Homo sapiens: one gene and its partners. The protein of the gene in region 2 interacts with the protein of the main gene of each other region in a biochemical or structural test. Each region holds a gene or a part of one and is shown on either strand. Other genes may lie near its edges.

The links.
Region 1: the proteins of POLR2B (region 2) and CTDP1 form a complex in vitro, tested with the Homo sapiens proteins (one study listed by BioGRID).
Region 3: the proteins of POLR2B (region 2) and WWOX form a complex in vitro, tested with the Homo sapiens proteins (one study listed by BioGRID).
Region 4: of the proteins of POLR2B (region 2) and CDK7, one has a biochemical effect on the other in vitro, tested with the Homo sapiens proteins (one study listed by BioGRID).
Region 5: the proteins of POLR2B (region 2) and SUB1 form a complex in vitro, tested with the Homo sapiens proteins (one study listed by BioGRID).

What each region holds. Positions count from the first base shown.
Region 1 is NC_000018.10:79,744,207-79,750,608, reverse strand, and holds part of CTDP1 (RNA polymerase II subunit A C-terminal domain phosphatase), read right to left. Parts: intron 1-6,402. UniProt on the Homo sapiens protein: Processively dephosphorylates 'Ser-2' and 'Ser-5' of the heptad repeats YSPTSPS in the C-terminal domain of the largest RNA polymerase II subunit. This promotes the activity of RNA polymerase II.
Region 2 is NC_000004.12:56,991,183-56,997,584, reverse strand, and holds part of POLR2B (DNA-directed RNA polymerase II subunit RPB2), read right to left. Parts: intron 3,511-6,402; exon of another isoform or gene 3,415-3,510; intron 3,182-3,414; coding exon 3,069-3,181; intron 2,939-3,068; coding exon 2,719-2,938; intron 2,335-2,718; coding exon 2,176-2,334; intron 1-2,175. UniProt on the Homo sapiens protein: Catalytic core component of RNA polymerase II (Pol II), a DNA-dependent RNA polymerase which synthesizes mRNA precursors and many functional non-coding RNAs using the four ribonucleoside triphosphates as substrates.
Region 3 is NC_000016.10:79,208,979-79,214,137, forward strand, and holds the end of WWOX (WW domain-containing oxidoreductase), read left to right. Parts: exon of another isoform or gene 1-2,629; coding exon 2,630-2,818; 3' UTR 2,819-3,689; downstream 3,690-5,159. UniProt on the Homo sapiens protein: Putative oxidoreductase. Acts as a tumor suppressor and plays a role in apoptosis. Required for normal bone development. May function synergistically with p53/TP53 to control genotoxic stress-induced cell death.
Region 4 is NC_000005.10:69,250,980-69,257,381, forward strand, and holds part of CDK7 (cyclin-dependent kinase 7), read left to right. Parts: intron 1-1,438; coding exon 1,439-1,472; intron 1,473-3,622; coding exon 3,623-3,690; intron 3,691-4,480; coding exon 4,481-4,549; intron 4,550-6,402. UniProt on the Homo sapiens protein: Serine/threonine kinase involved in cell cycle control and in RNA polymerase II-mediated RNA transcription. Cyclin-dependent kinases (CDKs) are activated by the binding to a cyclin and mediate the progression through the cell cycle.
Region 5 is NC_000005.10:32,593,550-32,599,951, reverse strand, and holds part of SUB1 (activated RNA polymerase II transcriptional coactivator p15), read right to left. Parts: intron 992-6,402; coding exon 883-991; intron 1-882.

The DNA of each region.
Region 1 (6,402 bases), on a different chromosome or scaffold from region 2:
GGCACGAGAATTGTTTGAACCCGGGAGGCGGAAGTTGCAGTGAGCTGAGATCACGCCACTGCACTCCAGCCTGGGTGACAGAGCGAGACTCTGTCTCGGGGGGGAAAAAAAAAGGCAGAGTAGCGGGAAGTGCACGCCCTAATACCTGCCGTCCAAGTTTTAAACGAATTTATTTTTATGTCAACTGGAATGAATATTTTCTACTGAGAAATAAAGGCTTACTTTTAATTGCTACATGAGAGTGAGGGGTTGCAAATTAGCTGGGAGTGTCGGTGCATGCCTGGAGTCCCAGCTATTTGGGAGGCTGAGGAAAAAGGATCCTCTGAGCCCAGGAAATGGAGGCTGCAGTGAGCCTGGGCCATGACCGCAACACTGCACTCCAGCCTGGGCGACAGAGCAAGACCCTGTCTTAAAAAAAAAAAATCTCCGCGCACCTTTTCTGTGCACCTGCTTCCCCTCTGCACACCTCGTCTGCAGATCTTGTGCCCGTGCCTGTGTTGGGCTGGGCACCGCCCGCTTCCCCTCCATGCCTCATCTGCAGATCTTGTGCCCGTGCCTGTGTTGGGCTGGGCACCGCCTGCTGTTTGCTTTGAGGACGCCAGGCGTATCATACACGAGTTTCCTTTATTTCCAGTCTCTGCTGACACTAACGACGCTGTCAGGGCCACGAGTCTGGCCTCCGGTTGCTACAGCAACAAGCTTTTGGCAATTAACAAATTCATCAGTCATCTCTTTTCCTCCGCATACACGCTGACGGCTGTTCCGGGAAAACCCGGCTCCCATCCTCCCATTAGGCTTCCTCCACCTCACTCCGTTTTGAGAACTTGAAACAAAACAAGACAGAGACAGTTCTCGTAAACGTGAAGGTGCTGCCGTGAGGGGTGTCCCGAACCCCTGGAAGAGCTCAACCCACTGGCAGGTGGACGGGACAGGAGACCCTTGCGAACAGAGGCGGTGTTTCAGGCCCCCAGAGCAGTGCATGGCGCTGACCTCGGGGAGGGGGCAGTCATGACTGTGAACAGGAGAGCCGAAGTGCCCTCTCAGGTCGAGCTCGGGACGGTCACCAAGTCCAGGAGGGGGCGGGCCTGGATCTCGTGTGCACGGGGCGCGACCCTCACAGTCTGGTGCCCGGCTCCCTGCCTGTGTGCTGATGCCTTGCTCAAGGGAGCCCTGGCCCCTCCTAGTGGGGCCAGACTCGGGGGTGCTGGCAGGTGTGGTTGACTCCCTCACAGCGACGCTGGGTTGGACGTATCAGGGGCACTGAGCAGAGCAGGGGCAGGGGCAGGGGCCCCGACCGAAAGTGAAGACGGGGCAGACGAGAGCCAGGCGGGACCCTGGGGCAAGCAGGGAGAGGAGGGGGAGGGCGAGAGGTGCAAGAACCAGTTCCAACAATTCTTTTCTTTCTAAAATCAAGCGAGGAAGCCATCCGTGGCAGAGTTCTAATGGCAGCAAGAGGATGGCAAAGAATGGGAAATGCCAGCTGTGACTCTCTGTTTGAGGTTTAGAAATATGTTCCCCTCACAAGGCCGACAAAAACACCCAGAGTGCTGTTGACAGCAGGACACACCTTCAGAAACGCCAGCATAACTTGGCAGGGTGCCACAGGACCTGAACCGAGCCCACGGAAGGGACCACCTCAGCTCCCGCTGGAGAGCCCTGTGCACATGCACCAACACGGCTCACACACAGACACGGCTCACACACAGACACGGCAAACACACAGACACGGCAAACACACAGAACGGCTCACACACAGACACGGCTCATGTGCAGTCACGGCTCCCAGGCAGACACGGCTCCCAGGCAGTCACGGCTCACACACAGACATGATAATGATGACTCTAAAGGCCTCTGATCATGACTCTGTCGCTGTTGTGTGAGATGAGGCGGCCGCAGGCGCTCATGGCATTCGCTGGGAACAGTTTCTTGTGGATCCACAGCTGGGGACGCTGTGGTCTGGGGCTGTGCTAAGTGCTTCTTCCTTAGATTTTCACAAGAAACCTGCGGGCAGGCGCCACCATCCCCATCTCACAGCAGGGGCCTGGACCTCACGATGCTGGTAAGAATGCTGAGAAACGTCCTCCACGCACTTTGGAAAAACGTAGCTGACTCGGGAGACAGGGTCAGGGCTTCCATGAGGCTGAGTGTCTGGGACCAGGTCAACGGCTTCCACCCTGAGGGGTCACAGAGCCCGGGCTGGGGCGGCCCTCCCTCCATGGGTCCCCCCAGGCCCTGCGCGGTCCCTCCTGGTGCTGCGAATGCTGCACCCTCGGTCTCGCTCCGTGATGAAGTACAGGGAGCGCCTCACTAAGGTGGCACAAAACCTTTGCTCTTAGTTAAACGATGTTTGGAGCATGGGATTTAAAAATACGAGATGAATGGACTTTAGTCATTAAAAATTACCTCGAACATTAGACACAGCTGCAGACTATGGTTAGTAAATGTCCGCAACTGATACTAGCTTCACTTCCTCAGCATAACATGCAATATTTGTATTTTGTTCATACAACCAGCTGCACAGCTCCATAGAGAAATGTTAACAGATAGAATTTGGGGAAAATTTACAGCTTTAACATTTATCTCAAATTCAACATTGAATAAGGCAAGAATACAAACAGAATAATATATATGTATACCCCACCCCCATATTTCAGTTTTCCAAACACACTGGGCTGTCACAGTGCACACGATTTGGCACCGGAAAGATATCCGTCAGTGCGGCAAATGCACAATTGTGTCACACCAGCATCTAATCCAAAGGGGATGGAACAATCCACAGGCACAGGGTTCCCGTGGCCACTGCCAGCGTGGCCGCGGGAACAAAAGGGAAGACCAGTGCTGCTCACCGTGAGGCCGCCACGTCACTAAAAAACCCGTGCCGGCGTGGCCAGGTCTGCACGCACCGGACACCTGCAGGAGGCGCTGCGCATGGCGGATAATTTCCCCAGTGCACCCTGGAGTGGAACGTGGCGTGAGAGCGGCGTTGGGGCTGCCCAAAGCAGGTGAAGCCTCACACAAGCGTGGGGGGCTCCGCGGGGACCTGGAAGGAACCCACCAGATGACGTCAGCGGGACCCAACAGTCCAACCACCTACAACACAGGGCTGGGCTCTGCCAAGGAAAGCAGGCGGCAAGAGCTGGTCTGCTGCTGAGAGTGGGCCCGGGCCCAGGGAGAGCCAGCGGTGCCCTCCCTCCGTGGCGTCTGCACCTGAGTCCCAGTTCCCGCAGGGCCCCAGCGGGGATGCCACAGCTCTGGGTGTGAACATTGTCATGCTCTCCTCAGCAATCTCATGGCATTAGAATGAACCTGTGTGTGTTACAGGTGGAAGAGGGGCAGGGGCCCTTCCCAGCAGGGAGCTGGCCGGGCGCTCACCACACCTGACCCTCCCCTCCGAGAGCCTGCTGCCAGGCCGGGGCTCTTTAAAGTGGGAAGTTCAGTGACCTATTTTAGGGTAAGAATTGCTGCTTCGTGTATTGGTATGAAAGGACTGGAAAAAAATTAATGTCTCTCATTTAAAATTGGGCAATCATTAAAAAACACTATTTGATTCAGCAGCTTTGTACCCAAATTCTAAACTGCAGGCACCAGAGTGGCTGGCAGCACACGGTCAAGTCACGCGACCAGGAGCCTTTAGCCCTGTGCACCAAGGACCACTTTAACACCCCTAGGCACGGTAGGCACAGTGGGCACGGTGTTCACACCTGTAGGTCCAGCACTTTGGGAGGCTGAGGCGGGAGGATCGCTGGAGGCCAGGAGTTTGAGGCCAGGCTGGTCTCAATGGGCAACAAAGGAAGTCCCCATCTCTACAAAAAAATTTTAAAAACATTAGCCAGGCATGGTGGTGCGCACCTGTGGTCCTACCTACTTGGAAGGTTGAGGCGGGACGATCCCTTGAGCCCAGGAGTTCAAGCTTCCAGTGAGCCATGATCGTGCCACTGCACTCCAGCCCAGGCAACAGAGTGAGACCTTGTTTCTTAAGCCCCTAAGTATGGGGTGGGCAAGGCAGGGCCTCCTGACCTGTTCACAGTGACAGCAGTTGTCAAAACGCTCTCACTTTTCCAAGAGATGCAGTTTGTGTAGCTATGAAAACACGAAAAAGCAAACTTTCACAAACCAAAACTCCGCGTGCTATGTGAAGGGAGAACGAACACAACCTCCACCTCCGACACCCTCGAGTGGCAAACCCTGAAGAGACCGCAGAGTCAGAACACGCATGGGAGGGACGCACGGACAGAACGCGCATGGGAGGGACGCAGGGTCAGAACGCGCACGGGAGGGACGCGGGGACAGAACGCGCACGGGAGGGACGCAGGGACAGAACGCGCACGGGAGGGACGCGGGCACAGAACGCGCACGGGAGGGACGCGGGGTCAGAACGCGCACGGGAGGGACGCGGGGACAGAACCCGCACGGGAGGGACGCGGGGACAGAACGCGCACGGGAGGGACGCGGGGACAGAACGCGCACGGGAGGGACGCGGGGACAGAACGCGCACGGGAGGGACGCGGGGACAGAACGCGCACGGGAGGGACGCGGGCACAGAACGCGCACGGGAGGGACGCGGGCACAGAACGCGCACGGGAGGGACGCGGGCACAGAACGCGCACGGGAGGGACGCGGGCACAGAACGCGCACGGGAGGGACGCGGGCACAGAACGCGCACGGGAGGGACGCGGGCACAGAACGCGCACGGGAGGGACGCGGGGACAGAACGCGCACGGGAGGGACGCGGGGACAGAACCCGCACGGGAGGGACGCGGGGACAGAACGCGCACGGGAGGGACGCGGGGACAGAACGCGCACGGGAGGGACGCGGGGACAGAACGCGCACGGGAGGGACGCGGGGACAGAACGCGCACGGGAGGGACGCGGGCACAGAACGCGCACGGGAGGGACGCGGGCACAGAACGCGCACGGGAGGGACGCGGGCACAGAACGCGCACGGGAGGGACGCGGGCACAGAACGCGCACGGGAGGGACGCGGGCACAGAACGCGCACGGGAGGGACGCGGGCACAGAACGCGCACGGGAGGGACGCGGGGACAGAACGCGCACGGGAGGGACGCGGGGACAGAACCCGCACGGGAGGGACGCGGGGACAGAACGCGCACGGGAGGGACGCGGGGACAGAACGCGCACGGGAGGGACGCGGGGACAGAACGCGCACGGGAGGGACGCGGGGACAGAACGCGCACGGGAGGGACGCGGGGACAGAACGCGCACGGGAGGGACGCGGGCACAGAACGCGCACGGGAGGGACGCGGGCACAGAACGCGCACGGGAGGGACGCAGGGACAGAACGCGCACGGGAGGGACGCAGGGACAGAACGCGCACGGGAGGGACGCAGGGACAGAACGCGCATGGGAGGGACGCACAATCCAGTCAAACACGTATGTGTGCTGACCACTCATCTTCCCCACAAAAATTATCCATGCCACAGTCATTACAACTGCTTTGGAAAAGCCTGAAACTCACATGAACTTACATGTCGTGGGGACACCTCCTAATCCCAGGAGCACCTTCTGATTCCCCACCCCACTCTCAGGACCCACAAGTCTTTCCCATGGAGTGGCCTGGTACCCCTGCTGAGAGCCAGCTGGCCATGGACATGGGGCTGTTCTGGGATGGACACTCCTGCTCCACGGCCCAGCACACTGTCATCACACCAGCCTCCGTTACTCTGAAGCACGATGTGCGTCCTCTGGCCTGCTCTTCCTCAAGACCCTCCAGGGTCTCCTGCGTTCCTGTAAGAGCTTCAGGACTGGTCTGTGGCCCCTCCAGGGGCAGCATCCTCCCACGACGCCCCCCATGACTGAGTGGCGGGGGAACCTCCAAGGTCTCGCCATGGCCGCCTCTCCCTTTGCTTGTCAGTTTCTGCCACTGGTGAGTTGGTTCTCACTTCCGGTGCACATGTGCTAGCAACTGTCACTCTTCCCGATGGATCCAGCTCTTAGCATCGTAATTCCATCCGTTATCATTATAAAGCGTCCTTCTTTACCTGTAGAAGCATTCTTTGTTTAAATTCAGTCTTCTCTGATATTAGCGGAACACTCCAGCTTTCCTACGGTGATGGCCTCTGACCCAGTTGTCCATCCACTCATAGTTAAAGCTCTGAATCCCCTCACGTTCACACCGCCACTCTGCTTTGTTTCTCATGCCTCATGTAGTTTTAGTTCCTGTCTTCCCTTTTCTGTTTTCTTTTGCATTAAGTGAATACTGTCTAATGTAACATTTTGGTTCCTTTTGTGAACTCCAAGTATCTGTGTCAGGTCTCACTTAACTTAAAAAGTTTATTTTGCCAAGGTTGGGGTCACCTGCCTGTGACACGGCCTCAGGAGGGCCTGACATGTGCCTGAGGTGGTCGGGGCACGGCTCTGTTTTACACATTTTAGGGAGACATG
Region 2 (6,402 bases):
AGTCAAGTCCCATCTTCTCTATTAAGTTTCATGAACTGGTCAGGGGCGGTGGCTCATGCCAGCACTTTGGAAGGCCAAGGCAGGCAGGTCACTTGAGCTCAGGAGTTCGAGACCAGCCTAGGCAACATAGTGAAACCCTGTCTCTACAAAAAATACAAAAATTAGCCAGGTGTGGTGGAGCATGCCTATAATCTAACTACTTCGGAGGCTGAAGTACGAGAATCGCTTGGGCCAGGAGGTGGTGGTTGCAGTGAGCCCAGATCGCGCCACTACGCTCCAGCCTAGGCAACAGAATGAGACCCTGTCTCAGAAAAAAAAAAAAAAACTTTGCATGGACCACACCATACTAGTAACCTCATTCTCCTCCAAATTTCTATAAAACTGTTATATGTAATAGGTGTCATTTGGCCTCTGCACTGTGTTACTACCATTTAATGTCTAAAGCTTGTATTCCCAATAAAACCATTCTTTTTTTTCTCTTTTTTTCTTTTTGGAACAGGCTCTGGCTCTGTCACCCACGCTGGTGTGCAGTGGCGCCAATCTGGGCTCACTGCAACCTCAGCACTCAAGCCATCTTCCCACCTCAGCTTCCCGAGTAACCGGGACTACAGGTGCCTGCCACCACATCCAGCTAATTTTTGGGTTTTTGTTGTTGTTGTTTTGCTAGAGAAAGTGTTTTGCCATGTTGCCCAGGCTGGTCTCACATCCCGGGCTCAAGCAATCCACCCACCTCAGCCTCCCAAAGTGCTGGGATTACAGGCATGAGCCACCACACCTGGCCACCTTCTCAATAAGGATTGTGTGTTTTCATGATCTCTTAACAATACCCAGCAATGTTGTGCACATGGGAAGAATGCTTATCTTACAAATAAAATATTATGAAAAACATTCTTGAGGTGACAGGTATGCTAAGTACCCTAATTTGATCATTACACATTGTATACACGTATCAAAATATCACATTGCATCCCACACATGCATAATTATTAAATAAAATTGAAGGCCGGGCACAGTGGCTCACGCCTGTAATCCCAGCACTTTTGGAGGCCGAGGCGGGCGGATCACGAGGTCAGGAGATCGAGACCATCCTGGCTAACACGGTGAAACCCCATCTCTACTAAAAATACAAAAAAAAAATTAGCCGGGCGCGGTGGCGGGCGCCTGTAGTCCCAGCTACTCGGGAGGCTGAGGCAGGAGAATGGCGTGAACCCAGGAGGCGGAGCTTGCACTGAGCCGAGATCATGCCACTGCACTGCAGCCTGGTGACAGGGCAAGACTCCGTCTCAAAAAAAAAAAAAAAAAAAAATATATATATATATATACACACACACACACACATATACATACACACACACACACACACACACACACACACACATGAACTGAAATAGAGGTTTTCCAAGATAGCTGTAAAAATTAAATCAAGCAATCTGAGTAACAGAATTGGCATACAGCAAATATTTAAGAACTGCTAGCTACTACCAGGTTCCATTATTATAAGCAACCTATGCTTATAACTATACCAGTGGTCTGCAGCTTCTAAGCTGGTACCCAATGATTCCTGCCTCCTACTATTGCCCTTGTAATACCCTCTTTAGTGTGAGCTGGACATACTGACTTGCAACCAACAAAAAGAACATGGCAAAAATGACAGGATGTTGCTACCACTTTTAAGTTATAAAAGACTGATTTCCACCTTGCTCGTACTCTCTATGGCTCTTTTTGCTTACTCTCTCTGAAGAAGCAAGCTGCTATGCTGCTGTCAGCTGCTATACGCAGAGGCCCACATGGCAAGGAACAAAGAAAGGCTTCCAGCCAACAGCGAGCAAAGACCTGGGACTCAGTCCAACAGCCAATGAAGAACTAAATCCTGCAGACAACCATGGGAATGACTCTTGAGATTACGGCAGCCCAGGGAAACATCTGATTGCAGCCTTGTGAGAGTTGCTTGGCCAAAAGACCCAGCTAAGCTACACCCAGATTCCTGACTCACAGAAGCCGTGAGATGATAAATGTTGCTAGAGGAGTAATTTGTTACACAGCGATAGGTAAACAATACGATATATAACAACAATATGCTCCAGAAAAGCTTCTATGGACAAAGAAGGCAGTCTAGTAAATTTTAAAACAAAGCACAAAGGAATAAACCCAAATAGCATCATATCCAGTCCATACCTGTCCTCCTCTTGCCAGCATGCTAACCCATATAGTACTGGTGGGTCGGGAAGAATTCTCAAGACATGATCTACACTCTCCTGTGTAGGCATATTTAGAATCCTTTTTGGCAAACACATAAACTGTGTTTGTTGCCATTTTCTCTTGGGCAATCAGAACCTATTTGGACAATAAGAAAGTTACAGCCATAAAATCCAAAACATCACTGAAGAGAAAAGAGAGTAAAATCTGCATCTTAATTTAATCTGACCATATAGGCTCACTGAAATATTTAATTCTTCAACTTTACAAACTCCATTTTGCATAAATGCTTCATAGAAATACATAAACTCCAAAACTGACCAAATTCCCAGTGCATGTTATATACAGCTAAATAAAGCTTTGGTTTATATAAGTTTAGCTGTCATACCCTAAACAAGTCAACTGTCAGTGCCAGGTTATCCTGCAGGAAAATCTTTCTTTCTTTTTTTTTTTTTTTTCATTTCAACTTTAAACTAAATTTTAACTACCATTTTGTAATTTTTTAAAATAATGTTACTATACCTTTTCTGATCCATTAATAATGAAATAGCCACCAGGATCCAAAGGGCATTCATTTAACTCACAAAGATCACGATCTGTCAAGCCATTCAAAAGGCAGTAAGTTGACCGCAACATAATTGGAATTTTTCCTATAAAAGTTTTCTGATGCTGAGTCTGAAGTTGTTCTTCACCTTCTTTAATGACTGTTTTTGTTATATCAACATAAAGCGGAGCAGAATACCTTTGAAAATAAAAGTAGATCACAGTTAAGCAATAGGGTATCTGTTAAAACAAATCCTCAAGTGGTTAAAATTACATTTTCAAAATTCTATTTCAGTATCTACTGCTGACAAGGAAAAATTCTTTCTTACGTGAGATTCCTTAATCTAGCTTCATTGGGCATCATTGGTGAAGGAGCACCATCTCTTTCCCAATGGGTAGGCTTGGAAAGATAAATTTGTTCAAACTTCAGCAAATATCGTGGCTGAAATTAAACAAAAAAACATGAAAAGGGTAAATAATTTTTTCCATAAAAGTTTTAGTGATTCCATTTTAATTGACATTAACATTTTAAGTACAAGCAACTCTACAAACTGGCAAAATTAATCCATTTTACTGAAATGGGGACTTCCCAAAGTCAATATCCATATTGCATAGACGTTAAGTTTTAAACCAAATCACTTTCTTTTTTCCTCTTTTCTTAAAAATTTTTTTTCACATTAGACAGGTAATGTGCTAACAAGGTTTGTAACAAGGTTTAAGGAAGGCACATCTCACACCCAATCATCACACACTTATCAACTACAGAAGGATCTGCTAATTGCTTTCTTAAGGCAGAAGACAAAAAGAGACTTAATATACTAAAAGTAAAGACTGTACACATCATGTGCTCTGAGTTTATATGAAACAGTTAAAATGGATTTACATTAATGATCTACATAGTTTCTTGTGCCCTCTCCTTGGTAAGCATCATCAAAAATACAAAGTGACCAGAGAACAAAGATAACAAATCCAGACAACTAGAACTATGCTCTAATCTAATCAATAGAACATTTTAAAAAATAAACCTCTCTTCAGTTAAATATACAAATTAATCTGTCAAAGGAGTAGAGTTAACAAAAGAAAAAGATTTTTTTATTTTAAAAAACACACAAAATATCCTAATCATTCTATATAAAGGGCTGAGAATTTCCAACTCTGGCTGGAATATAGCTTAGTTCATAGAAAAAAAAAGAAATTTTTCAATTAAACATTCACTTGCTGCCTAATAAAACAAGATCCATGAGGACAACTTTCTAGAGATAAATGGATAGTGTACTTTTCTCTAAATCAAGTCTCAGAGAAGAAAACAGGAGTAAGCAGACGTTTTACTAATGATTAATTATTGACACTCAAGTCTCCCAAGCTGGGCTGGATAAAGGGCAAAGAGAACGGTGGTGATAACGAACCAAAGGGAAGCCAATCCTCTACTCCTTATCTGTGCCATCATCTAGTCTAGGTCATTATTATCTTAATCATAGGCTATTCTAAGATTTTTATCTCCTCCAGTCTCTTTTGTTTTGTTTCATTTTGTTTTGTTTTGTTTGAGACAGGGTCTCACTCTGTCACCCAGGATGGAGTGCAGTGGCGTGATCTCGGCTCACTGCAGCCTCCACCTCCTGGGTTCAAGTGATTCTCCTGCCTCAGCCTCCCAAGTAGCTGGGACTACAGGCGCACCACCAGGCCCGGCTAATTTTTGTATTTTTTGGTAGAGATGGGGCTTCACCAAGCTGGCCAGGATGGTCTCAAACTCCTGGCCTCAAGAGATCTGCCTGCCTAGGCCTCCCAAAGTGCTGGGATTACAGGCATGAGCCACCACATCTGGCCTCCTCTAGCCTCTTTCTATTCCAAGCAAGCATCACTTTCCAAAGTAACTTTTCTAAAATAATGCTTTATGTATATTCTTTGACAGTCTCTCAGTAATTCCTCATAACATCCAATGACATTCAAAGCTTTCAACAATCGGGTTCCATCTTATCTTCCTAATGCCTATTAAAAATAGAGAAGCCCTGTAATCCCAGCACTTTGGGAGGCCAAGGAGGGCAGATCATGAGGTCAGGAGATCGAGACCATCCTGGCTAATACGGCAAAACCCTGTCTCTACTAAAAATACAAAAAAATAATAGCCGGGCGTGGTGGCAGGCGCCTGTAGTCCCAGCAACTCAAAAAGCTGAGGCAGGAGAATGGCGTGAACCCGGAAGGCGGAGCCTGCAGTGAGCCGAGATCGCGCCACTGCATTCCAGCCTGGCCAACAGGGCGAGACTCTGTCTCAAAAAAAAAAAAAAAAATAGATAAGCCAAAATCACATACTGATCATTGTGGTCCCCAGCCTAAATACACCAAGTATTTTCTTTTCTTTTTTTTTTTTTTTTTTTTTTTTTTTTGAGACAGAGTCTCGACCTCTCGCCCAGGCTGGAGTGCAGTGGCGTGATCTCAGCTCGCTGCAACCTCCGTCTCCCACGTTCAAGCAATTCTCCTGTCTCAGCCTCCCTAGTAGCTGGGACTACAGGTGCCTGGCACCACACCCGGCTAATTTTTGTACTTTACTAGTAGAGACGGGGTTTCACCATATTGGCCAGGCTGGTCTCAAACTCTTGAGCTCAGGTGATCTGCCCGCCTCGGCCTCCCAAAGTGCTAAAATTATAGGCATGAGCCATCGCACCGGCCACACCAAATATTTCCTTGCTGAAATGACTAAGCACCTTTTCTCTTCTAAGAGAGTTCTTCATAGTAAATTTAAGTCTCTTCCATCTTTTCTACTAAGCTCTGATAACTAGGTGTTAGAGATCTACTCCTCTTTTAGTACTTCTGTTACTGGCACGTTCAATTTGCTATGTTATATTGTTATCTGGCTTGTTATACAAAGACCATGAAGAAAAAATGACCCAACAAGCCAGGTGCAGTGGCTCATGCCTATAATCTCAGCACTCTGGGAGGCTGAAGCAGGTGGATCACTTGAGGTCAGGAGTTGGAGATCGGCCTGGCCAACATGTGAAACACCATCTCTACTAAAAATACAAAAAAATTAGCCAAGCATGGTGGTGGGCACCTATAGACCCTGTAAAAAAGAAAAAAATGACCCAAGAATAAAAAAGAAACTTAATGTCCCCCTTTCCAGCACAGCCCTAGAAGAGCCAATCACTTTCATTCTTAACAGCAAAATTCTGTACAGCATGTCCAACTAAAATGGAAATAACAGACCAGCACTTAGGAGATAAGCTACACAGAAGAGAAACTGATCAGGCTAGAAACAATGAACTCTCCCTGTGTCTAGCTCTATTTTGGGGGCTTTCCCTACCTCACTTTGTTTCTCAGTTTTCCCTGTCTCTCAAAGTCCAATATGTTCCAACAGCTGCCTCTCAACTTCTCTAAAACTGGGACAGTCATTATTTTGGACTACATCCTTCTTATAATCACTCATGTAAAACCAAATTATAAAATTATACCCTTAGTATGATTTTAACAATGCTAAAAAACCTGCATATATGTGAGCAAAAGCTACAAGAAACTTAGTAAAGATAGCTGCTATGTTTGGGTGATTTTCCTTTCTTATCTCATATGGTTATAATAATGTACTTCATGCAATATATAAAATCAGATGAAAATTCCTTCAAACATTTTTTATTATTTTTACACTGTGAGAGAAAAAAGCGGGGTTATCTATCT
Region 3 (5,159 bases), on a different chromosome or scaffold from region 2:
AGGTGGACGATTGATTTTTGGAGTAGAGAAGGTCGTCTTTGCTTTCGGGTGCCCCTCCTGTGTACTGTGTTCTACAAAGCCAGAGCCACTTGTGATGGAATTTAGATGGTAAATCACCCCAAGCCTAGTGGCAAAGGAATCAAAGCCATCTCCTGATAAAAAGTTAGGCTTTTCAAAAAGGTATGGCTCTCAGCATTGTAGCCAAATGTAGGTTGGCATGAAATGAAGCCAGTTGTAATTGCCTTTAGATTCCGTGGAAGGAAAAGGTAGGTCCCCAGCTCCTGCAACAATGGCATTCTGAATCAATGGGACTGCAGAATTTCTTAGCAAAAATACCATTCCAGTAATGCAAGAGTGCAACGTGGTATCATTACAGTAGGTCATAGTGGCAAAATATTTTATCAGGTTAGGAAGAATTCTGCTTTTTGCTTTCCCAAACGGACTGCTTTGGTCTTTCCTCACGCTTGGCAGAACAGTGAAAGGCCAGTCTGTCATGACGTTTGAATGCTGAATAGTATAACCATTGTGGCATAGAGGGCGGGAGGCTGGACTTGAAATGGGTGAGCTGGATTCTCCCACCACTCGGGAGTTAATGGCAAGTCACTTGGCCACTCTGGTCGTTTTGGCAGCTGCAAGGTAAAATGAAAATATATGACAGATATCTGGAAGTTGATACAAAACACCATCTCCACCAGAACTCTAAGATTCCAGGCCAAAATAATACTTGGCTTGAGTTAGCTGGATGAGCATCTCAATTCTCCAATTTGTCTTTAGAGGCACTTCTGCTTCCCTTTTCCCCACATGGGATGCAGAAGAGCCAGATAAACCCCTTGAAGTTGTTTAGATAAATGTGCCAGGTGCTAAGCTCAGGGTTATTAGGAATAATAATTCAGTGAAAGGAAATTTGGATGACATGAACTCATTTCCATTAGACTTGAGCCACACAAATCAATGGGAAAAGAAACAGCTGAATCCAGGATAATATCTGGCTATTTGGAGTGGGCATGATAATGGAGGGAGATTGGGGAGGTAACAAACCAGCTACTATTAAGTTCAAGTCATGTCAGTTATTCAAATTCAGGACCAGTGGAACTTGTCCAGTATCATCAAGCAGCCAGTTATTATCAAAACCCAAGTCTTTGTCTCACTCACGGTCCACACCCCGCCCAGAGTCGTATCACTTGACTGCATTTGACCATTCAGTTTTCAGACCAACTCCATTGTTACTAGATATCCTGACACTGAAGAAGCTAAAACCAAACAACAATGACAACAACAAACCCAAGTCTGCCTTATGGCAGATTCTTCACGTCGTAACACCTTCCTTGGGACCCTATTTCTCAGTATGGACCTGACTCTCCCAGGGATCCTAGAATGCAAGCATAGTGATTGCAAACCAGACCATTTGAGGGAAACTCCTCCAGTAAGCACCCTGCATGGTCACAATGTAAACCCTGCAGGGGCAGAAAAATGATAAGCTTTGGGTCGGGTCGGAAAGCCATTTCCCCCACAATCAAAGTTCCTTAGTGTTTTCCTTGTGGGGGCGAGCTTATCTTCAGTTACCTTTTCCGGTCCTCTCTTGCAACCCCTCTCCCTCTCATCAGCTGAAAATTAGTGGATGCAGCTAGGGCTCTGAAACACATAAATAATCATAAGATGCCAGATAAACTGTATTGGTTTTAAATTAGAGACGTGCCGACCATGTCTCCCTCTGAACAGCAGCCTATTATTTTTAATTATGGCTTGCAAAGCAAAGTGATTTCTTGCCCTCTTTATAGCATCCCTGACAGTATTCTGTCAGTTTGGATGATATGATGCCTCATCACTGCACACGTCCCTAGCCACAGCCGCAACTGTTACTCAAAAGGTGAATGAAAGTGATCAGCTGCACTCTTTGCAACTTACATTTTGAAGTGGGCTGGGAGGAAATGTACCCCCTTACCTGTGGTCCCATTGTAAATCTGGGTCAAATATGACATTTAGAAAAAGGTTTTCATGGGATCTGGATGAATTAATGTGTTATGTGTTTGTGCTAAGTATGAATGTATGGTGAGGAGTGTGTGTGTGTGTGTGTGTGTGCATTAAATGTTTTAACACAACATTGCCAACCCTTCCCCTAGCAGCACCGTGGGCAAAGCATAAAGGGATGATCTGGCAGCAGCCCCACTTGGGTTTTCTACCTGATGGACCACAATTAAGAGTGGTTGGTTTGTCAGACAGAAGGTTCTACAAACGATTTGGTATCGAATTACATTATACATGGAGAAGTTGAGGGGTTGGATGAATTTGTTCTTGCACGTTCAGAAGGATACCATCTTTTTCTCTGTGTGGAAGAGGCGCCTGCCACGACGTATTGATATGTGTATTTATTTTCCAAGCCTGTCCCTGTATGAGGTGTCAAAAGTTACACCAGCTTTACAAGCGGAGTTTATGAACTCGTTTTTCCAGGATAGTCACATTATACTTTTTACAGTCATGTGCTTTCAGCCCAGTACCCTTTGCTATGCCAAGATCCAGCTGAAACTGAACCAGGTGGGGGAGGCCTGCTAATGCCCAGGCAGTCGAAATGACGCCATCTCATCACTCCTTTTCTTAAAATTTTTTTTTGTCTTTCTTCTTGGATTTCCAGCAACAGGGAGCTGCCACCACCGTGTACTGTGCTGCTGTCCCAGAACTGGAGGGTCTGGGAGGGATGTACTTCAACAACTGCTGCCGCTGCATGCCCTCACCAGAAGCTCAGAGCGAAGAGACGGCCCGGACCCTGTGGGCGCTCAGCGAGAGGCTGATCCAAGAACGGCTTGGCAGCCAGTCCGGCTAAGTGGAGCTCAGAGCGGATGGGCACACACACCCGCCCTGTGTGTGTCCCCTCACGCAAGTGCCAGGGCTGGGCCCCTTCCAAATGTCCCTCCAACACAGATCCGCAAGAGTAAAGGAAATAAGAGCAGTCACAACAGAGTGAAAAATCTTAAGTACCAATGGGAAGCAGGGAATTCCTGGGGTAAAGTATCACTTTTCTGGGGCTGGGCTAGGCATAGGTCTCTTTGCTTTCTGGTGGTGGCCTGTTTGAAAGTAAAAACCTGCTTGGTGTGTAGGTTCCGTATCTCCCTGGAGAAGCACCAGCAATTCTCTTTCTTTTACTGTTATAGAATAGCCTGAGGTCCCCTCGTCCCATCCAGCTACCACCACGGCCACCACTGCAGCCGGGGGCTGGCCTTCTCCTACTTAGGGAAGAAAAAGCAAGTGTTCACTGCTCCTTGCTGCATTGATCCAGGAGATAATTGTTTCATTCATCCTGACCAAGACTGAGCCAGCTTAGCAACTGCTGGGGAGACAAATCTCAGAACCTTGTCCCAGCCAGTGAGGATGACAGTGACACCCAGAGGGAGTAGAATACGCAGAACTACCAGGTGGCAAAGTACTTGTCATAGACTCCTTTGCTAATGCTATGCAAAAAATTCTTTAGAGATTATAACAAATTTTTCAAATCATTCCTTAGATACCTTGAAAGGCAGGAAGGGAAGCGTATATACTTAAGAATACACAGGATATTTTGGGGGGCAGAGAATAAAACGTTAGTTAATCCCTTTGTCTGTCAATCACAGTCTCAGTTCTCTTGCTTTCACATTGTACTTAAACCTCCTGCTGTGCCTCGCATCCTATGCTTAATAAAAGAACATGCTTGAATATCATCACCTGAAGTTTGTATTGTTTCTTTAAATGTTTGTTTCAGTTTGTTTTTGTTTTTCATTTTTTAGAAAAGAAATCTAGAGGAAAAATAAAGCGCTTCTAATAAAGCGCTTCTCGTAGATGCCAGGAAAACACGATTCTTGTTTCTTCTCTGAGTGAGTTTGTGTTTTGTTTTTGTGCTTTGTGGCTGTCCGTGGGCCAAGTTGTCTCACGCGATTAGCATGCCAGCATATTTTCTGTTAAAGAAAGAAAAAAGAAAAATGACTATTGTTTCATTTCACCTTAAGATGTTTTGTTATTACTTACTTACAGTGAGTTATTTTAGTCCTCAATGGTCTGCTCCCCTGCAATTAGCAAGTACTTAGTGATTAGCGGGTATCTCTATGTTTGAGAATGGGAGCTGTGCAGAAGCTCTTATCTGCGCATCCCATCTCATGGACACCATGATTTCCAGCCCGTTCCAGCAAGCACATGAGAAAGTCCACTCTGGCAAGACGGAGAAAATGCTTCTGCTGAAATACCAGGAAGGTGTGGAGGCTGGGTGTCATTGTTCCCCCTCCTGATCATGGCAGCTTCAGGCCAGACAATGTCTTGAACTTCTGTGCCTCTGCATCTGTGGTGCAGAGCAGTCGAACAAACAAACACCATTGCCCTCCAGTGGCCCATAGCCTTGCCACATCCTCCCATCTGGCTATAGTCTTCCTTACGTAATCCTTATTATCACAGGACCTTTGAAACTATGAATCAGATAATGTCACTTTTCAGACATTATTGTCATTTGCAAAAGCAGCCGTCAGAACTCCACTCTCAGAATCTACACCTGGAGGGGATCACCCCTCCCATATGACCTCTGACTTTGGCCATGTGACTGGCCTTGGCCAATTTGGAAAGTGCTTTGCACTGGGGCTTGCCTTTCCTTGTTGATCTTTGGAACCCTGCAACTTCCATCATAGGGAACGGCTCCTGGGCTAGCCTGCTGGATGATGAGAGACACGTAGTCACTCCCAGAACCGGCATCCAGCAGTTAGTTAGTTAGACATGTAAGTGAGGCCATCCCAGACTATCCAGCCCCAGCTGTGCCAATTCAGAGGAGAAGAAACTGCACATTTCACTCACAGCAATGCAAAAGATAGTAAAAGTTTATTTTAAGCCACTAAGTTTCAGGATTACATGTTACTCAGCAAAAGCTAACTGATACAGCTTCTCAGCTCACTAAGGTTAATTTTTTTCTACCCTACTTCTCTTATAATTTGGTCTCCAGCTACCTCTCTAATCTCAACTTCCAGCACTTTATCCACTAGAAGCCACTCTAGTCTTCCTCTGTTCCTCGAACATGCCAAGCACACTCCCAACTCAAGGGGTGCATATTTGCTGTTTCCTCTGCTGAAATGCTTTCCTTCCAGAAACCAGCATGCCTTTCTTCCTCACTGATTTTTAGTCTCTGCTCACGTTATCCCTGTCTTCATGGTGTC
Region 4 (6,402 bases), on a different chromosome or scaffold from region 2:
AATGCAGTGGTGCAATCATAGCTCACTGCAGCCTCGAACTCCTGGGCTCAAGCAATCCTCCCACTTCAGCCTTCCAAGTAGATGGAACTACAGGCACATGCAACCATGCCCCGGTAACTTTTTTTTTTTTTTTTTCGAGACAGAGTCTCGCTCTGTCACCCAGGCTGGAGTGCAGTGGCACGATCTCGGCTCACTGCAAGCTCCGCCTCCTGGGTTCAAGCGATTCTTCTGCCTCAGCCTCCCAAGTAGCTGGGACTACAGGCGTGTGCCACCATGCCTGGCTAATTTCTGTATTTTTTTAATAGAGACGGGGTTTCACCATATTGTCCAGGCTGGTCTTGAACTCCTGACCTCGTGATCCACCTGCCTCGGCCTCCCAAAGTGCTGGGATTACAGGCATGAGCCGCCGCACCCAGCCAATGCCCCAGTAACTTTTTACATTTTTTGTAGAGACGGGGTCTTGCTATGTTGCCCAGACTGATCTTTAACTCCTGTACTCAAGCAATCCTCCTACCCAGGCCTCCCAAAATACTGGGATTGCAGGCATGAGCCACTTGTGTTTTTGTTTTTTTGTTTGTTTGAGACAGTCTCTCTCTGTTGCCTAGGCTGGAGTACAGCAGTGTGATCATGGCTCACTGTAGCCTGGGCTCAAGCAATCCTCCTGCTTCAGCCTCCTGAGTACTTGGGACTGTAGGCACGTGCCACCACTCCTGGCTAATTTTTAAAAATGTTGAGTAGACACAAGGTCTTGCTATGTTGCCCAGGCTGGTCTTAAACTCCTGGGATCAAGCGATCCTCCCACCTTGGCCTGTCAAAGTGTTGGAATTTACAAGTGTGAGCCACTACACCCCGCCAGTCTTTTCTTGATTACTGACAGTTTTCTAAAAAGCAGTGAGAGAATGTTCTTTACCCAGGTAATTTATTTTGTGTAAGACTAAACCTGTTAATGTAATTTGTTATGTTTATTCAGAGTAACAACATTTTAACCATCACAATTTGTAATTTTGCTTTTTGAAAAATGTGGTGTCTAAGAGCATATTATTGGGCTTATTACCAACTCTACAGCATGTTATTTTCTGTATCTTTCCTCCCAAGTAGCCTAATTTGAAGTTACGTATTTATTTTTAATCAGGGTACCCTTAGTTATTTGGTCCACATTGAACCTTGAAAAGGTAAAATAGATTTTTCTTAATTTTATTATTTGAATGTGTAGTTCAGAAACTTAAGGGACAAGGGTAGGTATTTGATTCTCTCTTATATTGTTAATTTTATCTTTCTGATCATGATTCCTACTCTCTTTTTGCCTAGTAGGTACATATTGGTTGCTAATTGTTTTTTTTTCTGTGGCGAAGTATTTGAAGTATTTACACATTATTCATTGATTCTAAATAATTTAACACATTTTTAATATATTTGGGTTTTTTTCCGTTTCTACCAGATCAAACTTGGACATAGATCAGAAGCTAAAGATGGTAAGTATTTCATGTAATCTGACAGATAGGAAAAGTTTTCTCCTTTTTTTTTTTTTTTTTTTTTTTTTTTTTTAAAAAGACAGGGTCTTGCTCTGTCACCCAGGCTGGAGTACTGAGACACAATCGTAGCTCACTGCAGCCTCAAACTTAGGTACTCAAGCAGTTCTCCCACCTCAGCCTCTTGAGTAGCTAGGGCTGTAAACATGTGCCACCACTTGTGGTTAATGTTTTATTTTTTGTAGAGATGAGGTCTGGCTGTGTTGCTCAGGCTTCTCTCAAACTCCTGGCCTCAAGCTATCCTCCCACCTCGGCCTCCCAAAGTGCTGGGATTACAGGCTTGAGCCACCATGCCCAGCATAAAGTTTTCATTCTCACTGAAGAAACGAGCAAAGTATGAATTAATAAGTTAGTAATGGTTCTGGATAGAGTTACTGCAGGGTCCCCGAAGAGTAAAGATAGACTCAGCATAGAGAAGGAGTATTTGGTGATTTTTACTTACTGGATATTCAGAGAAACATTCCAAATCACCCACATAAATGGAAGGCAGCAAGCTTAATTAGTTTGTCTTTCTGTCTTCATTACTGTTTTAGGTGTTACAAGCCATTGTTTTTTCTGTTTCTGAGTTTCTAATTACTTTGAAAATTCAGGATACATTTTCATGAAAGTACATAAAGCTTACTATGGAATAGATACATGAGGAAATTATTTCATTAAACTTTCTTCCAAAGTCTTATTTATTAGGATTCATCATAAAATAGCTCTTACAAAAGAGACCCATTGTCTGTGTAAGTGCCAATACTATATCTTATTTTTATTTTGTTTATTTTTTTTGAGACAGAGTCATGCTCTGTTGCCCAGGCTGGAGTGCAGTATCGCAATCTCGGCTCACTGCAACCTCTACCTCCCGGGTTCAAGCGATTCTCCTGCCTCAGCTTCCTGAGTAGCTAGGATTACAGGTGCACACCACCATGCCCAGCCAATTTTTTGTATTTTTAGTAGAGATGGGGTTTTGCCACCTTGGCCAGGCTGGTCTCGATCTCCTGGCCTCAAGTGATCTGCCCACCTAGGCCTCCCAAAGTGCTGGGATTACGAGCCACCGCGCCCGGCCTGTATCTAATTTTTAATTTTGAAATCTGTCATTTGTATTGGAAAATATACTATCTTATCACTAGTTTGCTTTTAGCACAAACAATATGCCACTAATATTTGTAGGGCAAGAGTAGGGAAGCTTATCACCTATATGCTGCACACTTATATATGTTGTTAGTCTAGTAGTGGTGTTCAGATCCTGGTATAGATAAGGTGAAATATTTTTCACCATTTGTCGTAGTCTTTGTTAAGCTATTTTAAAAGTAAAGCAATATTGGCCTGGTGCCATGGCTTACGCCTGTAATCCCAGCACTTTGGGAGGGTGAGGTGGGTAGATCGCCTGAGCTCAGGAGTTCGAAACCAGCCTGGCCAATATGGCAAAACCCCATCTCTAACGAAAATACAAAAAATTAGCCAGGCGTGGAGGTGCACACCTGTGGTCCCAGCTACTCGGGAGGCTGAGGTGGGAAAATTACTTGAGTCTGGGAGGTGGAGGCTGCTGTGAGCCGAGATCATGCCACTGCACTCCAACCTGGCTGACAGGGTGAAACCCCATCTCAAAAAAAATAAATAAATAAAAATAAAGCAATGTAAAAGAACAACAGATTTGACATAAAAATTGTCAAAGTAGCCCTTATTTTTGTGGGTAATGTTCACTATTTTCTGAGATTACTAACCTTTCTTTAAAAATATGTGTTTGTGGCTGGGTGTGGTGGCTCACGCCTGTAATCCCAGCACTTCAGGAGGCCAAAGCGGGTGGATCACGAGGTCAGGAGTTGGAGACCAGCCTGATGAACATGGTGAAACCCCGCCTTTACTAAAAATACAAAAATTAGCCGGGCGTGGTGGCGCGTGCCTGTAATCCCTGCTACTCTGGAGGCTGAGGCAGGAGAATTGCTTGAACCCGGGAAGCAGAGGTTGCAGTGAGCCGAGATCACGCCACTACACTCTAGCCTGGGCGACAGAGCGAGACTCCATCTCAAAAAAAAAAAAAAAAAAGAAGTGTTTGTAAGGTTTGAGATTTCAGAATTATTCACTTTTTGCTTTGCCTTTTTATATAGGTATAAATAGAACCGCCTTAAGAGAGATAAAATTATTACAGGAGCTAAGTCATCCAAATATAATTGGTGTGAGTATGATCAAAACTGTTACTGGGATTTGGGACTCTGCCTTTTCTTAATATAATGGATGTTGATTAAAGGCTCAGCAAGATGACTTGTTCTGGATGAGCCTTGTAGAAGCTTAAAGGAAATACATTTTCTATCCCAGTTGTTTTGGTAGGCATTGTCTTCAAAACTATACCACTGATTAAATAAATGAAATATTGACATGTAGGCTAATTTTGTCGGAAATAATTTTGAAGTCTAGGGAGCTCTAGCATGTAGTGGCTGAGAGTGTCAACCTGAATTCAAAACCTTTCTTTCTGCCTGTGTGAGACCTTGAGTGTGTTCACTCACAACTCCCCAGAGTCCCTGCCTCATAGGGAAGTTGTGAGACTAGCCAATTGAATAGATGTAAAGTATCTGGAATAGTGCCTACCATAGAAAATGTATTCATTCATTCAATGATAGCTGCTGTTATTTAGAGGATTTCTTAAGAATCACATTTGGGACTTTTCTTTTGAATTGGAGACTGGAATGAGGTTTTCATTGGTTAATTTCTTAATTCTAACTCCAAATATTTGGGGAAAGAGGTTGGGTATTTTTTTAAGTAAAATTTAATATTTTTATGCTTCAAAATACTAATTCCTTTAGTACTGTCCAAAAAAGGACAAATGTCAAATTTAATCAAATGATTTAAGCTTTATAGGGAATTACCAACAGTTTAAATGCTTTTTAAATTTTTAAAAATTGCCTCAGTTGCTATGATACTGTCAGGTATTAAATAGTGAATCACATTTTAATTTTTTAACTTTGCAGCTCCTTGATGCTTTTGGACATAAATCTAATATTAGCCTTGTCTTTGATTTTATGGAAACTGATCTAGAGGTAAGATTAAGATTCCTGGAGAAATTCCTTTGTCCCAGTTTATCAAACAAGAACCTAAATATTTGTTTTCTACCCAAGAAGATACTGGTAGTAAAAGAAAAAAAGCTTAATTTTGTTGAAATTTGGATGTACTCTGAGGCAAAAGGATCTCTAGTTATTTTCTTCTAATCATTTAGTGATATCCCCAGTGTTACATACAAAGATTTGGATTTCATTGGCATTTCTGCCTTCTAAGTTCCCATAGCTAGTTGACGTCATTTTTGGAGAAATGAGCATTAGACCTATAAGATTTGTTTGCTTTTTTTTTTTTTTGTGATGGAGTCTCAGTCTGTTCACCCAGCCTGGAGTGCAATGGCGTGATCTCGGCTCTCTGCAGCCATCACCTCCTGGGTTCCAGTGATTCTCTCACTTCAGCCTCCCAAGTAGCTGGGATTACAGGTGCCACCACGCCCGGCTAAATTTTATATTTTAAGTAGAGACGGGGTGTCACCATGTTGGCCAGGCTGGTCTTGAACTCCTGACCTCAAGTGATCTGCCTGCCTCAGCCTCCCAAAGTGCTAGGATTACAGGCATGAGTCACCATGCCTAGCAACCTATAAGAATTTAAAATTTATTTCTGGCCAGTGCAGTGACTCACGCCTGTAATCTCAGCACTTTGAGAGGCCAAGGCAAGAGGATTGCTTAAGCCCAGGAGTTCAAGACCAGCCTGGACCCCATAGATCCTGTCTCAGCTTTACAAATTATATTAAAAAATAAAGAAACTTATTTCCATATAATCAGAGTAATGTCATTCTTTTGAAAGCCAAGTTTTTTTGTTTGTTTTTGTTTTTGTTTTGTTTTTTTGAGACAGAGTCTTGCTTTGTTACCCGTGCTGGAGTACAGTGGCGCGATCTCAACTCACTGCAACCTCTGCCTCCCAGGTTCAAGCAATTCTTGTGCCTCAGCCTCCTGAGTAGCTGGGATTACAAGCGCCCATCACCATGCCCAGCTAAAATAGAGATGGGGTTTCACTATGTTGGACGGGATGGTTTCAAACTCTTGACCTCTGGCGATCTACCTGCCTGAGCCTCCCAAAGTGCTGGGATTATAAGCGTGAGCCACCATGCCCGGCCTCTTTCTTTTAGATAAATACCTAGCAGTGGTATTGCTAGATCACAAGATTATTGATTAGTGGTATCGATCACAATATTAGTGATGCTGTTATAGATCACAATACTAATGGTATTGATCCTGGAAGGACCTATCATAATAGGCTATGGACTCACCACTAGGCTATGGATTGCACCATTGCACTCCATCCTGGGTGACAGAGTGAGATTCCCATCTCGAAAAAAGAAAAAAAAAAGAAACAAAAACGTATGCCAGAATTCAGTTGGTACAGATGTTTGGCTTTATTAATAATTATCAAAACTGGAACAATCCAAACATCCCTCATTCTAACTGTACAAACAAACTGAAATACTACTCAGGAATAGAAACACACTATTGATAAATGCAGCAACATAGATGAATCTGAAATGCATTATACTAAGTGAAAGAAGCCAGGCTAAAAAGACTATGTATTGAACCATTTCATTTATATGATATTCTGGAAAAGGCAAAATGAAAGGAACCAGAAACCAGATCAGCGGTTATGGGGGCTTTGGGGTAAAGGAAAGGAGTAAGTACAGAGGGGCCTCAGGGAATTTGGGGAGGTTACGGAACTATGCTTTGATTATAGTGGTGGTTACATGACTGGATGCATTTGTCAAAACTCATGGAACTATACACTAAAAAGGGTATGCTTTACCTTAAATCTGATTTTAAAAAAAGAAAAGGGGAACTTTTAGTTCCTAACTGATAAATCTAGAATA
Region 5 (6,402 bases), on a different chromosome or scaffold from region 2:
ATTTTCTATATTTTGTACTTTAACGTTCTAGCATTCCAATACCGACGCATATAAACAGAGAAGTAAACAAGAACTGGCAGAAAGTATTCCCAGAAAACTGCTGGAAGGCCATGAAATTGAAAAAAAAGAATAAACAAGAAATATGGCATCGGCCACTCTGGTACGTGAATTACCAATCCAGAAGTGACTTGAAGAAAATATGAAAGCATATAAACACATATAGAGGCTGAGTTTAACCAAAAAAAAAAAAACTGCATGAAGCAAACAAGTGGTACCTTTCAAACTAACAGGCAGGCAGAATAAAACTAAATAAGGAAGCATTTTTCTTTAGCTGAGGGTCAACCTAGAGCAGCAATCCAAATATACAAATTTAGGTTGGCTCACCTTCTCTAGCTGTTTGGTGAATTATACAAAATATGTTTCTACAATGCTAAGAGGCTTGGGACTGGATGAAGCACAAATGGAAGGAAAGCAGAGATCCGCTTGAAGAGTAATGCCCTAAAGAATAGCTTTTAGGAGCTGAATCAAAAGGAAGCATTGTAAACCAAGATTTTCCATTCCTGATTTTACAAGTTCCCAGATAGTGCCTAATCTGCTTCAGAATTGCATAAACCTTTTTAAAAATTGTTCAAGTAAATTAGCAGCCAACTGAAGTGATATTAGGGGTGTTACTTTTCTGGGTTTTATTCCCAAAAGCTGTATTAAGACATCTCATTAAAAAAATGTTAAGTATCATGTCCAAAATAACTACAGAAGATAGAGAATCAATTGAGTAAGACTCTTCCTTGCCCCGTGTGTCCTGCCAACATTTCAAGTAAGCTACTCAGAAAAGTTGTCGTTTAGTCCTAACACTGTAATAAAATTCAAGTAATTAGACCTCACCTTTTCTTCCTGGTTTCATTTCACCTTCAGGATCCATCCAATATTCTCTAATATCAATTAGCACTTTGCCTTTAAAATCGCGAACACTAACGTACCTCATTTTCCCAATCTGCAAAAGAAACAAACATAAAAAGAGGTGCTCCTTTCAAGAGTGGTATCTGTTTCAATTGTATTCATATTCACAACTTGCTGCATGCTCACTCTACATCTAATCATGAAAATGACTACTGCTGACCCTTGAACAACATGGCTCTGAACTGTGCAGGTCCCACTTATATGCATATTTTTTTCAATAAATATACTGGAAAAATTTTTGCAGACTTGACAATTTGAAAAAACTCACAGAACAACTGCATAGCCTAGAAATAACGAAAACATTAAGAAAAAGTTAGGTATGTCATGAATGCATAAAACATACCTAGATATGAGGTTATTTTATCACTTACTATCATAAAACATACAAATCTATTATATGAAGTTAGAGAGAAATGTAAACAAAGATGGAGTATTAATTCATAACTGCATAAAATTAACTACAGTAGTGTACTAGTGTTAACTTCATAGCCACTTCCTGTTATCTCAGTGTACTCAAATGTTACAAGTATCTGCTTAAAACACCTTGTGTAAAACACCATGTGATGCTAATCATCTCTGCTGAGCAGTTCATGTCTCCAACAAATTGCGTATTGCAGTAAAAAGTGATCTCTCACGGTTTTCACATTATTTTTCATCATGATTACTGCAATACCATAAACTTTAAATAACACCATGAGTCCTATACAAAGTGCCCCTAGTGATGCTGAAAGTGCTCCCAAGAAGCAGAGAGAAGGCATGACATCACAAGAAAAAAACTGCCAGAAGCAGTGGTGCATGCCTATGATCCCAGCTACTCAGGAGGCTGAGGCCGGAGGATCACTTGAGCCCAGGAGCTTGAATCCAATCTGGGCAACACAGCAAGATCCTGTCTTTAATTTTAAAATGCAAAAAAATAAAAATAAAAATAAAAATAAAAAAGTTGAATTGCTTGATATGTACCACGGACTGAAATCTGCAGCTGTGGTTGCCTACAATTTCTAACAGATGACATATTTTATTAACAGATGACATATCTTATAAACAGACAACGTAAACTAATGTTATTGATAAACACCATACAGTACAGTAAAATGTAATTTTTCTCCCTTATGATTTTCTTAGTAATATTTTCTTTTCTCTAGCTTACTTTATTGTAAGAATACAGTATATAATACATATAACATACAAATATATGTTAACTGTTTATGTTACTGTTAAGGCTACCAGTCAACAGTAGGCTATACTTAGCAGTTTTGACAAAGTCAAAAGTTATAACCAGATTTTCAACTGCACAGGGGTTGGTGCCTTGCATTTTGACCCTGCATTGTTCAAGGGTCAACTGTACTACTCTCAGTATCAAAACTGCAACCAAAGGAAATTGCTGTTTAAACTATCATATGATCCAGCAATCCTACTTCTGAATATATATCCCAAAAAATTGAAAGCACAGACTCCAAGAGACATCTGCACACCCATGTTCATAGCAGCATTATTCACAAGAGCCAAGAAGTGGAAACAACACAAATATCCACCCAGAGATGAACTGATAAACAAAATGGGAGAGGGGGGGTGGAATAGACACACAATGGAATATCAATTAGCTTTTAAAAAAGGAAATCCTGTTACATACTACGTCAATGAAATAAGCCAGTCATAAAAAGGAAAAAGGTAATACTTTATGATTCCACTTACATGATGTCAAGTTCACAGGAACAAAAAGTAGAATGGTGGTTACCAGGGCTGGGAGAAGGGGAACTGTTGTTTAATGGCCACAGAGGTTCAGTTTTGCAAGATGAAACAGTTTCGGCAATCTGTTTCACAACAATGTGAATATACTTTTATGGTTTTTACCAGCAAAAAAAAAAATCATTAGGAAGCAATATTTTGCAGTACAAACTACAACCAAGAGGAATCCACAGATGCAACTAGCTACACTGCTTCACCAACCATTCTGAATATACGAATCCAGAGTTCCAGTCAATAACAACCAAGTTTTTCCTTTTCATGTTCACTTCAAATAACATCTTTAATGCACCTCACTCACAGTCAGATTGAGAACTTAAAAATATTCACAGAAAATTATTTTTCAAAAATCTTATATATCTGCTTACCACAAATTACAAATTCCAGAGAAAAGAACAGGCTTTCCTCAACAAAGTGTCTCTTAGCACTTTCCAAGACTCACTATAATATAGTAAGGGAAGACAATGCAGTACTGGAGTAAAGACAGACATAAGAGGTCAGTGGAACACAACGGAGTCAAAAAATACACACGCATTGGATATATTCACTGATTTTTTTGGGGGGAGGGGGTAAAATCCAAGGTAATTCAAAGGAATAAGAATACTCTTTTCAACAAATGGTGTTGAAACAACAGGCTATCTGCATTTGGGGTGGGGAAGACTCTAAATCTCTATCTTACATCATACACAGAGAAATTAATTCTACATGAATTATAGACCTAAATGTGAAAACTAAAACTATAAAACTTCTAGGAAAAAACACTGGCAAAAATTTTTGTGGCCATGGTAGGCAAAATACGTCTTGGACAGAAAATAAGCATTAAGCAAAAAAGGAGAAAAATCGATAGAATAGACAATCACACTAAAGCCTTTTTTAAAAAGATGCTTCAGAAAATAAAAAGGTAAACCAGAAACCTAAAGAAAATATTCACTCAAGTTGGAGCCACAGGGGTCTTGGCCTTCGAGGAGAGCCTGAGGAAGAAGCAGAACCGTGGACGTGAAGAAAATGATGAACTGACCAGAATCCGTGAGGACCTCATTTCCAAGAGAGAGAAGATCTGTCACAGACGCCCCTGACCAACTGCCAGTCCCCCCTTATTCTGTCTGTTTGATTCTCTCTGGTTTCATATTTTCCTCTCTGTTAACCTCCACTCATTTTTGAACTAGATTGCTTTGAAAACTAAAGTTTCCCTGAAGTCTAAAAAAAATATTAATTATACTTACATCTGACAAAATATATAAAGTGTTACAACTCAAATGACCTGGCATTTTAAGTGGCCAAAAGATACTCTTCACAAAAGATATAAAAATAACCAATAAACACACTAAAGATGTACAATGAATTAAGACATGTACATGAGGGAAATGGAAAGTAAAACCACCATGAGCTACCATTATACATTCAATGTAACTAAAAAGAAAAAAACTTAAAAGACTGACAATATCTAGCGAGGATGTGGAGCAACTGGAATCTCCTAAGTAGTACCGATGGCTGTGTAAAATGCTACAGCTACTATGGAAAATGGTTTGACAGTGTCTTATACAGTTACACATTTACCCTACGACTCAGCAAATGTATCTGGTATTTACCCAAAAGGGAAAAAATGTCCACAAAATGACTTGTACAAGAATATTCACAGCAGTTGTATTCCTAATAGCCCAAGACTTGATACAATCCCAATGTCCACCCAAGGTGAATGGATTTACAAGTTGTAGTATTATCATACAAAATACTACTCAGCAATAAAATTACTGATATATGCAACAAGAACTAATCTCAACACATTATACTGAGCAAAAGCCAGACACAAAAAATAGACTGCATGTATCCATTTATACAAAGTTCTAGAAGAGACAACATAAATCTATAGTGGTAGAAATAAGATCAGTGATTACCTAGGACATGAGCAATGACTGTAAAGCCAAGAGGAACTTCCTGGGGTGATGAAAATGGTCTGGCCACAAAGGCGTGTACATTTACCACAGCCTATCAAGGTATGCTTTTAAATGTGTGCGTTTTATTGGACATAAACTATACCTCAAAAACATTTTTTTTTTTAAAAAAAAAAGGAATCTGCCCAACAGCTGCCTCTCCCTTGGGGGGAAAAAAAGAGTAAAACTGACAAATTCTTATTAGCAAAAATTAAACAAGTGATGAGATAGTAGTATAGGGATATATTACTTAAAGATAGAAAAAATAAAGATCACTGAAATCACATTTTATTGGAAAAAAATAAAATCAGATGACAATATATTTTATATCCACAAAATCTGGAGATTAGCAGCAAAAAATAGCATATACATCATAAAGAACTGTGATTCTTATACGAATTTGATTCCCTGTCCCCTCTGAAGATCTGATAAAGCAGTGGTTCCTAACCTTTTTGGCACCAGGGACCAGTCTCACGGAAGACAATTTTTCCACAGCAGGTAGGGAAGGGGAAAGGTGATCGTTTCAGGATAAAAATTATCCCACCATCAGGCATTAGATTCTCATAAGGAATAAGGAACGCACAACCTAGATCCCTTGCATGCGCAGTTCACAATAGGGTTCGCGCTCCTATGAGAATCTAATGCCGCTGCTGATCTGACAGGAGGCAGAGCTCGGGCTGCAATGTTCACTCACACACCGCTCACCTCCTGTGCAGGAGGGACCCCTGTGATAAAGGTTATGAATAATTCCTTCAAACACAAAAAAGAAAACTCAAATTAAAAAACAATTCTATGGACTCCTGCCCCAGATTAAAATGACCAGTTATAATCATTTTAAATTAAATAATTTAAAAGTATCAAGTATCCTTAAATCATCAAATAAACTAAAGCAGTATTACTGACCCTTTGTGCCTAACTCTGAAGAAAAATATGGATTAAAGTTTCCTGCCTCAACTATTCTGACCTTTCAAGACACAGGTACTAAATAATTATGAGATAATTCTCCAGTCTCTTTACTATCACAGATGTCACCTCAGGTAGACTACATCCCTATGGAAGAAAGTTCTTCAAAATCAGAGCTGAAGGAACCAGGAAGTAAGCATCTCTAGTATCTTCTCTCTAGTCACGATTCTGCCCCAATCACTTCAGACTTTAAAAGATAAGTCTATTGATTTTTCTTTGGTACAACTCTTTAATACATTTAGAGAACTGCTTATGTATTGATGTTTGATGTACATCAAGCTGTAATGGCAATGAAATTAAGTATCATATTATTTCATAATGCCTACACTACTAGATCCATGAAAGCCACTCTGAAAATAAGGCCTAGGCTGGGCGCCGTGGCTCACACCTGTAATCCCAGCACTTTGGGAGGCCAAGGCAGGCAGATGGCGAGGTCAAGAGATCGAGACCATCCTGGCCAACCAGGTGAAATCCCGTCTCTACTAAAAATACAAAAATTGGCTGGGGGTGGTGGCGCATGCCTGTAGTCCCAGCTACTCAGGAGACTGAGGCAGGAGAATCTCTTGAACCCAGGAGGCGGAGGTTGCAGTGAGCCGAGATTCGTGCTACTGCACTCCAGCCTGGTGACAGAGCGAGACTCCGTCTCAAAAAAAAAAAAAAGAAAAGATGACCTATGTTCCTCCTAGAGGCAGGCTTTCAAAAGGTGCAATGTCAGCCTTAGGAGGCTTAGGAATCTTTCCAGATGAGGGTTTAAGAAATGAAGCTCCGTTTTTCTGGTGAGAAAATTCCTAAAATTAGATCTAGTTTT